Regions from separate parts of the Homo sapiens genome. Here region 2 is linked to region 1. Evidence: fine-mapped expression QTL. Tissue or cell type: testis. Region 1 holds a variant in brackets; the other region holds the start of a gene. All regions are shown on one strand. Distances are between the middles of the regions.

Region 1 (2,755 bases):
TCTCAGCAGACTACATTTTTGTGTCCTTTGACAGCAAGATAGCTTTTAGGTGAAGCAGAGGGTGCAATTCTAGCTCTGCCCTTGACTGTGTGACAATCCTCAGCCTCAATGTCCTTATCTGTGAAATGGGGTAGTTAGTGATGGGCCTGCCTGCTGGGCAGACTTTATGAGATAGTGCAAGCCCAATGCTGAGTTATTTGCCAGGCACATGCCTGGAATTGGAATTGTTCCTTCTCTAATTTCTTTTCTTTTCTTTTTTTTTTTTTTTTTGAGATGGAGTCTTGCTCTGTCACCCTGGCTGGAGTGCAGTGGCGCGATCTCGGCTCACTGCAAGCTCTGCCTCCCGGGTTCACGCCATTCTCCTGCCTCAGCCTCCTGAGTAGTTGGGACTACAGGTGCCCGCCACCACAACTGGCTAATTTTTTGTATTTTTAGTAGAGATGGGGTTTCACCATGTTAGCCAGGATGGTCTTGATCTCCTGACTTCATGATCTGCCCGCCTCAGCCTCCCAAAGTGCTGGGATTACAGGCGTGAGCCACCACGCCCGGCCTACCTTTTGTATTTTTAGTAGAGACAGGGTTTCACCATATTGGTCAGGCTGGCCTCATGAGGTCTCCTCCTGACCTCAGGTGATCCACCTGCCTTGGTCCCCCAAAGTGCTCGGATTACAGGCGCATGTCATTACACCGGCTAATTTTTGTATTTTTAGTAGAGACGAGGTTTCACCACGTTGGCCAGGCTAGTCTCGAACTCCTGACCTCAAGTGATCCGCCCACCTCGGCCTCCCAAAGTGGTGGGATTATAGGCATGAGCCACCGTGCCCAGCCTATTGTTTTTAATTGTTTTTGTTGTTGTTTTTGGAGATGGGGTTTCAGTCTATTGCCCAGGCTGGAGTGCAGTGGGGCAATCTCGGCTCACTGCCACCACCTCCCAGGCTTAAGCGATCCTCCCGCCTCAGCCTCCCGAGTAGCTGGGACTACAGGCATGAGACAGTGCACCCATCCCAGATTTTACTGTTTTTATCCTTTGCTATTCTGATTCTGGTCCCATGACCTAACTCTCCCCCTCACCCTTGCAAGAGTGGGTGTTTGTTTGTTTGTTTGTTTGTTTGTTTTCCAGAGTAGGGATGCTCACCCGTAGCAACGCTGCCCCCGGGAGACACTTGGCAATGCTGGAGACATTGGTGGTTGTCGCACCCAGGGTGGGGGCTGCTGCAGGCAGGGAGTGGGTGGAAGCCAGGGATGCTGCTTACTGCCCTGCTGTACACGGGACGCCCCCACCGCAGAGAATGATCTGGCCCCACATGTTAATGATGCTGGGGTGGAGAAACCTGTTCCTGGGAACCCCGGGACCCTTACCCAAGGATTCAGGGCAGAGAGCATCCAAAAGGCGGAGATATTCTCGCTGGGAAGTCAGGAGCGTGTATCCTGTCAGGGCTGTTGAGCCAAGGCAGTGGCCCCCGTTTTCATATTCCTACAAAAGGTACCCAGAGAACCAACCTGGGACAGGTCTGAACTGTGGCTTCTGTGTCCCAACTATACCATCAAGGGAAGATTTCAGATGAGCT[G/A]AAAAATCCTCTGCCCCTCCCACCCCTCCCTCCCTCTCCTTTCCTCCATTCCTCCCTCTCTCTTTTTTTTTTTTTTTGTTTTTGAGACAGAGTCTCACTCTGTCACCCAGGCTGGAGTGCGATGGCGCGATCTCAGCTCACCGCAACCTCCACCTCCCAAGTTCAAGTGATTCTTCCACCTCAGCCTCCCGAGTAGCTGGGATTACAGGCACCCGCCACCACAGCAGGCTAATTTTTGTATTTTTAATTGAGACGGGGTTTCGCCATGTTGCCCAGGCTGGTCTTGAACTCCTGACCTCAGGTGATCCACTTGCCTTGGTCTCCCAAAGTGTTGGCATTACAGGCCTGAGCCACCGTGCCTGGCCCTAGGTTTTGTATTTTTAGTAGAGACGGAGTTTCACCATGTTGGCCAGGCTGTTCTTGAACTCCTGGGCTGAAGGGATCTATTTGCCTCAGCCTCCCAAAGGGCTGGGATTATAGGCGTGAGCCACGAGGCCCGGCTCTCCCTCCCTTTTTTTTTCCTCCTCTCTCCCTCCATCCATCCTACCTCTGCCCCCATAACTTTCTCCCTTCCTCCCTCCTGTTCTTGCCCTCTCTCTCCCTCCTTCCCTTTCCCCTTTCCCTCCCTTCCTCCCTCAGTCCCTGAGCTCCCAGCACCCACGGGCTCCCCACGTGCCGGTCCGGTCCCAAGTGCTGTCTGAGGACCCTCTTGTTGAACCCTCAAAGCCCTACATGGTGTGAAACATCCCATTTCACAGAAGTGGAAACTGAGTTTCAGAAAGGTAGTGATCGCTCCAAGCTCCCCAGCCAGAAAGCAGAGCGGCCAGAGGTGTGACTTGCAAAGGCCCCAAGAGGTTGAAACCACAGCTCTGATACTGACCACGACCCTATCCCTGGCCTGGGCCTCAGTTTACCCACCCAGCACAGCAGGGGATGGGACGAGATGGTTGCCTACAACAGGCCAAACACATAGGGGCACAAGATTCATCCTGGGTGATTGATAGAGGTGGGGCTATGCTGAGATATGGATCCCACAAACCTTGAGGCTGACGGGGGTGGGAAGGAGGGACCCAGAAGTAGAAAGGCCACGTGCCAATCACGCACCTCCTTGTGGCTGAACCACTCTAGGCGGCCGTCCCCACGCAGAACACAGAAGATCGGCTGCCACCGGGGTGGGTGGCCCCGAA
Region 2 (2,617 bases), 190 kb before region 1:
CTGGAAGTCCATCCCCCTGCCGCCCCCACCTGTTCCTACTGGCCAGGGGGCCCTTCCCCCTCAGCACCTTCGGGTGCTAAGACTGACTGTCCTCTCAGTCCCTTGCAGCCTTCTCATCCTTCCTGACACCATGTGAGCTGGAAGCTTGTTCCATCTCCTCACTCGCTTTGGGTCCATCCCCAAACCAGACCTGTGTTGGCAGGGCTGAACCTGTCTATCATCCCGGCCATATCCCTGTGTCCACTGCCCAAAGGCCTGGCGCATAGCAGGTGCTCACTAAACACTCCTCAAGCACATGAACCGAGGTGCGTGTTCCTGTCCCATTTTACATGCAATGAAACGCCAGGTCCAGATGCTCCGAGGGATGGGGGATGAACACCCATCTCCACCCACGGGCGCATCACGCCCGCCAGTCCCACTGAGCCAAGTGGCTGCAGGTGAACCTGGCAGGTGCGCCTATGACTCACCTCCCTAGGTGCCAAATCCCCAGGGCAGGCCGCACCCGCCCACACCCCAATTAGCAGCTCCTTGTGAGGCAACAGAAAGCGGGCCCCGGGGCTCCAGGCCCAGCCTCCCCCATATCTGCTTCTCCCTCCGGGAGATCTCTATCTAAGCTGCTAAGACCTGGAGATCCAAAGCGACCCCAGGCCCTACCCCCGGGCAGGCCAGTCAGGCGGGAAGCGGAGCCGTGGTCCAACTGCAAGGGTCCCCAAGCCCAGGCCCGTGTCCCCTCCCCTATCTTCACCCGGAGTTGGGGCGGGGCAGCCCTGCCCAGCCCAGGCCCGGATGCCACTTTCTCCGCGGGCACCCACGGGCACCCCGCCTTTGCCCGCGTCGTGCGCCTAACGGTGAAGGGGACCCAGCCCCAGGCCCGCGACCCCCGCCCCGGAGCCCGGGTCCCGCCGCCGCCGCCGCCGCCGCCCCACCCCGCCGGCCCCGGGCCCAGACGCGCGAACGGGCCCGCCTCCCGGGCTCCCGCGGGCCCCCAGGCCAGCCCGACCTCTTTCGAGCTCCTCCAGGACGTAGGTGAGGAGCCCCGGGCTCCCGAACTCGCTGCCCACCACGAGGAGCAGTGAGCTCGGAGCCGCGGCAGCCCCAGATCCAGCCACCGCCGCCATCTTCGGGCCGCCCCGGCGTTCTCGGCGCCCGCCCCGCAGGCCCCGCCTCTTAAAGGGGCCGCACCGGAAGGGCTGAAGACCCCGCCCGGAACCACCGCATCCCCGCCCCTTTTTGTCGACCACTTACAGGCCCTTTGAGGTCGTGGAGAGCAGGGGATGCGGGCGTTAAAGGGGTTGGCCGACTCCTGGGTGTCCGCTTGGGAGCCGCCTCTCCCAAGTGACCATTCATTCATTTTTTTTTTCATTGAACAAGCTTTGATTGCGTGCCTGCTGCATGTAGGTCAGAACTCCTGCCCTCCAGGAACTCACATCACATGACAGTAGGCCGCATCAGAACCCGGTGCCTATGGATGCTCCCAGCTCTCTAGGTCAGGGCTTGAACAGAGAAAAGAAATCTATCTTGTAGGTAGGGCTTTAAGGGATGTGTAGGAGTTTGCCTTGTGGGTGGTGGGGCAAGAGCTGGTGAGGCAGAAGTTTACAGCAGGTGCAAAGTTTTAGAGGTAAGAAAGTACATGTGTGTTTGGGACACAACCGGAGCACTCTGGGCCTGCCTGGAACAGGGCAACACTTATTCTGCACCTCCTGTGCGCCAGGTATTTTATTGCATTAGCTCATTACATACAAGCACAAAGCGATGAGTTTTGTGCTTGTATGTAGGCACAGATGAGTAGGCACAGTTACTGTGGTCACTTTCAGAGGAAAGAAGAGGAAACTGAGATTTGGAGGGATGAAGTCACCAGGCCTGTAAGTGGTAGAGCAGGTTTGAACCCAAGTGGGTCTTACTCTAGATCCAGCCTGTGCAAGGGACTGCCTGCGTTGCGCACATGGGTACCTCTCTCTCCCCAGATAATCCTCTTTAGGCTTTTCTTTCCTTTCCTCCCCTCTCTTCTCCTCTCCTCCCCTCCCCTCCTCTCCTCTTCTCCCCTCCCCTCCCCTTCTCTCCCCTCTCCTCTCCTCTCCTCCCCTCCCCTCCCTTCCTCTCCCTCCCCTCCCCTCCCCTCCTCTCCCCTCTCCTCTCCTCTCCTTTCCTTTTCTTGAGATGGAGTCTCATTCTGCCGCCCAGGCTGGAGTGCAATGGCACAATCTCAGCTCACTGCAACCTCTGCCTCCCGGGTTCAAGCGATTCCCTTGCCTCAGCCTCCCAAGTAGCGGGATTATAGGTGTCCGCCACCATGCCCTGCTAATTTTTGTATTTTAGTAGAGATGAGGTTTCTTTTCTTTTCTTTTCTTTTCTTTTCTTTTCTTTTCTTTTCTTTTCTTTTCTTTTAGAGACAGAGTCTCGCTCTGTCGCCCAGGCTGAAGGGTAGTGGCGCGATCTCGGCTCACTGCAAGCTCCACCTCCCAGGTTCATGCCATTCTCCTGCCTCAGCCTCCCGAGTAGCTGGGACTACAGGCGCCCGCCACTGTGCCCAGCTAATTTTTTGTATTTTCAGTAGAGACGGGGTTTCACCGTGGTCTCGATCTCCTGACCTCGTGATCTGCCTGCCTCGGCCTCCCAA

Evidence for each region. PIP is the estimated chance that this variant, and not a neighbour inherited with it, causes the effect.
Region 2: MAP1S starts here. The variant in region 1 is fine-mapped to the expression of MAP1S in testis (GTEx, PIP 0.98).

The regions. Positions count from the first base shown.
Region 1 is chr19:17,532,306-17,535,060 of GRCh38, reverse strand. It overlaps NIBAN3 (niban apoptosis regulator 3), which reads right to left. Exons shown (of 15, transcript NM_001321827.2): 3 at 2,673-2,755; 4 at 1,360-1,474. Among named protein-coding and RNA genes, the nearest start is that of NIBAN3, 6.4 kb to the right of the region's middle. The variant G/A (reference allele first, on the strand shown) is at 1,569.
Region 2 is chr19:17,718,004-17,720,620 of GRCh38, reverse strand. It overlaps MAP1S (microtubule associated protein 1S), which reads right to left and starts at 1,141. Exons shown (of 7, transcript NM_018174.6): 1 at 1,001-1,141. The coding sequence starts at 1,118. RefSeq lists enhancers at 1-99, 490-559, 2,610-2,617 and a silencer at 910-959.